Regions from separate parts of the Homo sapiens genome. Here all the other regions are linked to region 2. A link means that fine-mapping ties the variant in region 2 to the expression of a gene that starts in the linked region. Tissue or cell type: left ventricle. Region 2 holds a variant in brackets; each other region holds the start of a gene. All regions are shown on one strand. Distances are between the middles of the regions.

What was found. PIP is the estimated chance that this variant, and not a neighbour inherited with it, causes the effect.
Region 1: it holds the start of KDM1B, and the variant in region 2 is fine-mapped to the expression of KDM1B in left ventricle (GTEx, PIP above 0.99). The same link has a PIP of 0.9 or more in atrial appendage.
Region 3: DEK starts here. The variant in region 2 is fine-mapped to the expression of DEK in left ventricle (GTEx, PIP above 0.99). The same link has a PIP of 0.9 or more in atrial appendage.

Annotation. Positions count from the first base shown.
Region 1 is chr6:18,154,369-18,156,988 of GRCh38, reverse strand. KDM1B (lysine demethylase 1B) reads right to left here and starts at 1,567. Exons shown (of 22, transcript NM_001364614.2): 1 at 1,418-1,567; 2 at 1,063-1,106. TPMT (thiopurine S-methyltransferase) reads left to right here and starts at 1,912. Exons shown (of 9, transcript NM_000367.5): 1 at 1,912-1,956. RefSeq lists an enhancer at 627-866 and a silencer at 1,307-1,866.
Region 2 is chr6:18,208,780-18,211,279 of GRCh38, reverse strand. The region is part of intron 17 of KDM1B (lysine demethylase 1B); the gene reads right to left. Among named protein-coding and RNA genes, the nearest start is that of DEK, 54 kb to the left of the region's middle. The variant C/T (reference allele first, on the strand shown) is at 1,402.
Region 3 is chr6:18,263,341-18,265,960 of GRCh38, reverse strand. It overlaps DEK (DEK proto-oncogene), which reads left to right and starts at 1,431. Exons shown (of 11, transcript NM_003472.4): 1 at 1,431-1,576; 2 at 1,965-2,118. The coding sequence starts at 1,974. LOC124901270 (a long non-coding RNA gene) reads right to left here and starts at 1,429. Exons shown (of 2, transcript XR_007059486.1): 1 at 884-1,429; 2 at 1-231. RefSeq lists silencers at 1,071-1,350, 1,391-1,750, 1,811-1,870 and an enhancer at 1,756-2,307.

The DNA of each region.
Region 1 (2,620 bases), 54 kb after region 2:
ATGTAGATTTCATTATAATAATCCCTAGGTTTTTCTGAAGCAGCTTATTCAAAAAGATTTTTTCTTTTTTTTGAGACGGAGTCTTCCTCCGTGGCTCAGGCTGGAGTACAGTGGTGCGATCTCGGCTCACTACAACATCCACCTCCTGGGTTCAAGCGATTCTTCTGCCTCAGCCTCCCGAGTAGCTGGGATTACAGGTGTGTGCCACCACGTCCGGCTAATTTTTGTATTTTTAGTAGAGACCAGGTTTCACCACCTTGGCCAGGCTGGTCTTGAAGTACTCCTGACCTCAAGTGATCGCCCACCTCGGCCTCCCAATATTGAATAATTCAATATTGAATTATTCAATATTCAACATGCAGTTCAATGATTCAATATTAAATCCCCAATTGCCTAGATATCTTTTGTTGATTCTCCCAGCAAGGCAAATAATTATTGATGGTAATTTTCTCATGTACCTCCTGAAGAAGCCTTCTCTCCCACTCGCCTTTCTGCCACTAAAATAGATTTAAAAACACAAAACAAAACTGGTCAAAGCCTTGAGTTATGTGTGTATACGTGGTGTGGGGGATTCCCCAACTGGAGTGGACTGGGGAGTCCTGCAGGCTTACCCAAGGGAAGACTGGACTTCTATGTGGCTGGTTTCCACATCACTGAACCCCAACTTTCTACAGCTGGGTCGGCCTCTTCCTTCCTCTTTCACCTGTCAGCTGCCCGGCCGTTGACTAACAGCTACCCTAATCGGGCCACCCCTCCTCCAGGTCTCCAATCCCAGAGGAGTTACCCCAGCAACCTGGCAATGCTCATCAAGTCTCAACGCGTGGTGGCTGTGCCAGAGAATTACTACAACACCTGCAAGGCTGTGCGGGCTCCTGGCCGCACCCTATCGGCCGGGAAGAACAAGCGAGGGAGTTCCTACTCCAGGACCGTGGGGTTCTCCCGCGGCTCTGACAGTCCCCAGGAGGGAGCCCCAAACTCCCGGTGCCAGCTGCAGCCGCCTCGCTTTCCGAGAAGCTTTCGGAAGCTTTTCGAAGTCGGAGAAGCAACTGCCCCGGGGCTCACCTTTGCGCTGAAGAGGTGCCGGGAGTCTCGGGGAAAAGGCACCGCTGTACAGAAAGGAAACATTGTAGGGGGGTTAGCCGACCGGCAACATCGCGACGAACCCGGCGACCCCACGCCCCAACACCCTAGCCCGGGAATTCCCCCTTCTTCAGACAGATACCCACCCCGCACCCTCTTTTAATCCGGGGCAGGAGGTATCCGTCCCTGGGGCACCCGCCCACCTCCCACCACGGCGAGGGGCGCTGCACAGGGGGAAAGGGAGGGCTTGCACCCCAACCAAGCTGCTTTGTGCAACGCTGTCACCCGAAATCCGCCACGGCCCCCACGCACGCCCCCGGAGTGGGGAGCCTCCCACCTCTGAGCGCCAGCGAGGCGGTGCGCGCCGCCCTGGACTGCGGGCGCCTCTCCGGAGCCGCGCGCCGCGCGCACAGGACGGCTGCAGCCGCGCCGCGAGCCCCAGCCTCTTCTCGGCCGCCGCCGCCGCCGCCGCTTCCGCCCCTGTCACGGCGTGACCCGGGGTGGGAGGAGCCGACAGGACTAGGGATGGGTAGGGTCCCCGCCTTCGCTTTAGCCGCAGCGCTCGCTCCGCCCTGCCCATTTCCGCCGCTGCGCAAACCCCGGCGCTTGGGGAAGTGGGTGGAGTCTGTGCAACGAGGTACGGGGCGGGAGTGGAGACGGGGCGCCGGGAGAGGGGGCGGGAACTGAGGCGGGGCGCGGGAAAGAGGCGGGGCGCGGGAAAGAGGCGGGGCGCGGGCGGAGGCGGGGCGCGGGCGGAGGCGGGGCGCGGGCGGAGGCGGGGCGCGGAGAAGTGGCGGAGGTGGAAGCGGAGGCGTACCCGCCCCTGGGGACGTCATTGGTGGCGGAGGCAATGGCCGGCAACCAGCTGTAAGCGAGGTAGGCTCACTCGGGCGCGGAGGGTGCGGGTGAGAAAGGGAACGATTTGCTAGGAGTGTATGCGCCCGTGCTAGGGCTCCCAGGAATTCTTACAAGCGTAGACAGCCTAGCAATCAGCCCTGTGAAGTGGGGTTCAGGGCAGAAGCGGAAACTGGGAATAACGAGGTCGGACAGTAAATGACCTGAATCCAATGTCCAGGATTTAAAGTGCTTCCAAAGCACTGGTGTGTTTTAATTATTTTTTTTTCTTTTTTCTTTTAGAGACAGGGTCTCCCTCTGTCGCCCATGCTAGCGTGCAGTGGCACAATCATAGCTCACTGTAACCTGGAACTCCTGGGCTCAAGTGATCTTCCCGCCCCAGCCTCCTCGGTAACTGGGACTACAGGCTCGCTGCACCACGCTTGGCTAATTTTTCAAATTTTTTTTTATAGAAACGGACTCTCGGTTTTTTCCCCAGCCTGGTGTATTAGTGATTTTTGGGAAAAAATAAGTACTGCCAAATAGTGAGTGATCCCTGGTGATGTGGGAAACTGGGGTGCTGTAAATATTCTGTCTTGCTCTGCGGTGGTTACACAGGTGTATGTATATGTAAAAAATTCACCGAGTCATACTCTTTTAAGATGTGTGCACCTTAGGAAAGTTTCTTCTCAATTTTATGAAATTT
Region 2 (2,500 bases):
AATCTACCTGAGGCTTCAAAGATTTTGTATATTTGGCTTAACTCTCAATTCTAGGATCACAGGAAGTTCAGAGTTCTCTGATTTTGTCACTATTTTCTGCCACATGAAAATATTTTTATAAAGTATAAAATATGCTCTCTATCATCAAGAAGTTTATAATCTATTTATAGATAATTACCATGCAACCAAAAAAAATGAGGCAAACCACAACAAAAAACCAATTACTATCCAATTAAATTGCAAGAAAATAAATAAAATCTAGATTTTTTTCCCCTTTAAAGAGACAGGGTCTTGCTCTGTTGCCCCGGCTGGAGTGCAGTGGCATGATCACAGCTCACAGCAGCCTCAAACTCCTGTGCTCAAGTGATCCTCTTGCCTCAGCTTCTTGTAGTAGCTGGGACCATGGGTGTGCAGCACGATGCCCAGATAATTTTTTTATGTTTGGTAGAGACAGGGTCTCACCATGTTGCCCAGGCTGGTCTCAAACTCCTGGCCTCAAGCCATCTTCTCGCCTCAGCCTCCCGAAGTGCTGTGATTACAGGCATGAGCCACCCACGCCCACAAATCTAGATGTTTTCTTAATGACAAAATAGCACTGAAAAGCATAAGAACTTGAGTAGCCCAGGTGCAGTGGCTCACACCTATAATCCCAGCATTTTGGGAGGCTGAGGCAAGAGGATTGCTTAAGACCACGAGTTCAAGACCAGCCTGGACAACATAGGGAAACACTGTCTCTACAAAAAAAAAATTTTTAATTAGCTGAGTGTGGTGGCATGTGCTTGTGGTCCCAGTTACACAGGAGGCTGAGGTGGGAGCACTGCTCAAGCCCAGGAGTTCGAGGCTGCTGTGAGCTACAAGCTGCACCACTGCACTCCAGCTTGGGCAACAGAATAAGACCCTGTAAAACAAAAAAAAAAAAAAAAAAAAAAAAAAAAAAGAAAAGAAAGAGAAAAAAAAGAAAGAAAAGCCTTGGGTAAACAAATAGGCAAATGATATAAACACATCCTAGTAAGTAATAAAAGCGAGATGTCAATGGAAGCAGCCTAGACTGAGTTAGTCTGCTGGAGGTTCATCGGTCTATCACGTTGGGTTGAAAATTATTCTCTTACAAGTTTGGGGAAACTTCCAATGCAAACTGTGGTGCGTGCTAGCTACAATAAAAATATTTGTTTTAAACATTTCAAAGTGCAGCCTGAAGCTGTGCCCTAATTTCTCCAGAAGGCTGGAATACAAACACAGAAACGCACAAGTACTGGCCAGGGTCAGGCAGAGAGTAACAAAGCAGGGGAGTTAAAACCAGCTTGCTGTCCTGGACACCAAGAAGTGGAGCTACAGAACAGCAGAGGCTGAACTGTCGGGTGACTTGCAATTTTAAAAGGTAGTATTTTTAAACACTGTTTA[C/T]CACCAGGCAAAACCTATTAAGAGCTTACAGAAAAGGTCACTGCAGACAAGGTTCTCAACCACGGCTGCACACTGGAATCACTTGAGAAGCTTTAAAAACATGACTAGCCGGGCATGGTGGTGCATGCCTGTAATCCCAGCTACTCGAGGGAGGCTCAGGTGAGAGGATCCCTTGAACCCAGTTGCTCGAGGCTACAGTGAGCTATGACTGTGCCACTGCACTCCAGCCTGGGCGACAGACTGAGACCCTGTCTCTGAAAAAAACAAACAAAAAAGCGAGGCCAATTCAACAAGAACGCATCAGGGTGGGGCTTTCCAGCCTTTCTTTGTAAGCGCCTCCCAGGTGGTTCCGACGTGCAGCCCGGGGATTGCTGCCCAAGATCTCCGAGTTGGTTAATGGCAGGAATAATGTTAGGATCCCCTGCCCCGACTAACTCATTCCCTAGACCTGTCTTTCCCATGTGACATGCAGTCCTTTACTTCTGTATGAAAATCAAGGACTATGAAATAAGTTTTAGATACCTGAAGTGTAGGAAGCATAGCTAGTCTAGGAACTAGTGATAGTTCATCAATTATATTTTTTCATAGTCACTTAAGATATAACTAAACTTAAATTTTCAAGGTTTACTAAATCCCCTCTACCCCAAGGAGGCACCTTTATTCTCCAATACTATAAATCTCAGTGTGATTTCAGGTATTTGATTCAGCAGTACCTTGTACTGTTCACCTACTATAAAGCTGTTTACAAAAAATTTAAGCCATATGAAAGTACTTCTGATAGTTTCAAGATTTCAAGATGAAAACAGAACTTTCCTGATCTGAAGAAGGATTCCGTGGTTTAAAAAAATGTGGAGAGCACAGAATAAAAGTAAAATAGATTTCTTTAATGCAGGACTTCTCAGAGCCTTTAATATACTTCTATTTGGGCGGAGCACAGTGGCTCACGCCTGTTACCCCAGCACTTTGGGAGGCCGAGGCGGGCGGATCATGAGGTCAGGAGATCGAGACCATCCTGGCTAACAGGGTGAAACCCCATCTCTACTAAAAAATACAAAAAAAAAAAAAAATTAGCCAGGCGTGATGGCGGGTGCCTGTAGTC
Region 3 (2,620 bases), 55 kb before region 2:
TCTCCTCAACTCGTCAGGACCACCTGCCTGCAGAAAGGAGCTGCCCACTATGGGTCTCCTCTCCACTGAGGGCAGGACGCTAGTCGGGACAACCCCCCTGCAGAAAGGAGCAACCCACTTCAGGTCTCAGGAGAGCTGTTCTGTCCCTCAGTGAAGCTCCTGTCCACCTTGCTCACCCTCCAGTTGTTTGCGTGCCTCACTCTTCCTGGACACAGGACCAGAACTCAGGACCTGCCAAATGGTAGGATTGAAAGAGCTGTAACACAAATAGGGGTGAAACACAACCCCCCACTCCCAACCACGTTGCAGGCAGCAAGAAGGAGAGATGAGCTGTGGAGTGTGGATAGGATTTGAGTGGGATAAATAGTGTGGAAAATGGCATACCGTTTGAGGGTAGAAATGACACTATTCGCGTATGTTTTGGAAGGGGAACAAAAGGAAAAGGGAAGATTCAAAGGAAATGTCTAATTTTTGTCCTGCAACCCAGAGTCCAGGCAAATTTCACTGATCACATTTCTATTAAGTCCACTGAGTACAAGGATCCTTCAGGTGAGCTAGTGGTTGAAGAGTTGGGAGAAAATAAAGGAAATCACATACAAAAGAAGGCAGCATTGAGCAGGGAAGATACTGCTTTGAGTGTCTGCAGTGTTGAATGTGTAAAAAGCATCTGCATAGATGACCTAGAACTCTGGGAGAAGGGTCTGGACCCGGCCAAATAACATATTTCCTCTATTATAAAACAGAGAGTGTGTGTGAGAGAGGAGAGGAGAAGGAATGGGGTGGGAGGGAGCCTCTCCCCTTATATTTACAGGGGTGTAAATCTATGTGGCTGGCTATGTGAACCTTTAACGTGGCAGGTAGGATCTTTTTCCTTTCGGTGCACCTTACAAGCGATGCGGTCCTCAGAAATACAGATTTGGGAGTTATCTATCACCCAGCATGATTTCTGGAGCATTGATGAGACCGCTGATTAATTCTCCTCCGCCTCAGAGTAACACTGTCGATAGCGACTTCGGAGATCTCTAAACTTCTTTACCGCGCCCGCCGCGCCCCTCCGCGGCCCGGGACTGCTCATCATCTTTTCCAGGAAGCGACCGTGGAAACAATAAACACGCAGGCCCCCTAGCGTCCTTCCGTTCCGCGCTGCCAGGCCGCCTCGCCTCCCGCTCCCGCCCGCCCCGCGGGACACAGCCCGCCCGCACTCCGGGGCCCGAGCGCCGACCACACTCCAGGCGCAGCCGGGGAGAGCCCCGCGCGCGCATCCCTCCGCCCGCGGCCGAGGCGACCCCTCGCGGTCCCGCCCGCCCGAGCTTCCCGCGGAGGCACCCGGCCGCCCCGCCTCCCCCGCCCCGCGCCCGCCAACTCCCAGCTCGCGGCCCTGATTGGTCGCCGCATTCCCGCTCTCCTTCCCGAACCGCCATTTTGAAAATCTTGTTGATTCTGGGGAGCCGAGCGCGCGGCGCGAGCGTCACGCCAGACAGCGGCCCGCGCGCCTTCTCCTCGGCGTCGGCCGCCGCCGCCTCCCAGAACCTCCTCGTGCCCTCGCGTGCCAGGCCCGCGGCGGCCGAAATCCGCGGTAAGGGCTGCTTCGGGACGCCGGAGGCCCGGTCGCCCCTGCCGCGGCCGACGGGGGAGGGACGCGGCCATTTGGACGGCGGCCTGGGGCGGGGGAGGGGACGTGGAGGGCCGGCAGCTCGGGCCGGGCCGGGAACAGCGCAGGCCGGGCGGGCGCGCGCGCACGCGGGGCAGCGGGCGCGGTTTCCCGCCTCGGGAATCCCTGGACGGCGGCGGCGGAGCGGGAGGGAAGCCGCCCCTGGGGACTGAGCGCTGCGGTCCCGGCTATGGGAGGAGGCAACTTTCAGGGCAGGTGTCCCGCGGGAAGGGTAGCATCATTCAGGGTGGCCGCCCGGTCCTGCCTGCGGGAGTAGGAGGACCGAGACGTCCGGCTTTCTTCCCGCATGCAGGTTCACAGCATGTCCGCCTCGGCCCCTGCTGCGGAGGGGGAGGGAACCCCCACCCAGCCCGCGTCCGAGAAAGAACCCGAAATGCCCGGTCCCAGAGAGGAGAGCGAGGAGGAAGAGGACGAGGACGACGAGGAGGAGGAGGAGGAGGAAAAAGGTGGGGGGAGTCGCATCCCAACTGATGAATTTTTCAGACCGAAGTTTTTTTGTATTTTTCACCCAGGAAACAGTTTTCTTGCTCTTTTGGTGTTTAGAGGCGTGAAGTCGGAGTGATTTTCAGCGAGAATGTGTGCACAATTTATCTGCTTTTGTTTTGAGCGATGGCGTAGAATTGACTTTGTGTATTCCGGTTTTTAAAGTATTTGTTAGCGTGGTAGAGATGTATTGGAGTGCAGCCGACTTCTCGTCCGCTCTAAACGTTCGTTAACATTTCATCATTTGACGGGAAGTTTGTAGGTCTTGGATTTGATTTTTTTTTTTACCTGTGTGTGTGCACCTTTGAAGTTGCTAAGTGGATGTTCTAATTTTGTCCTTTTCATTACACATCTTTTGCCTTTTGAAGTTATTGTAAGGTCTTGGTGCAGCCCGTTAAGACTGAAGTTATAAGGCTAGACCCGGAAGTATTTGAATACTTTCGAATATTTTTACATTTACCAAAA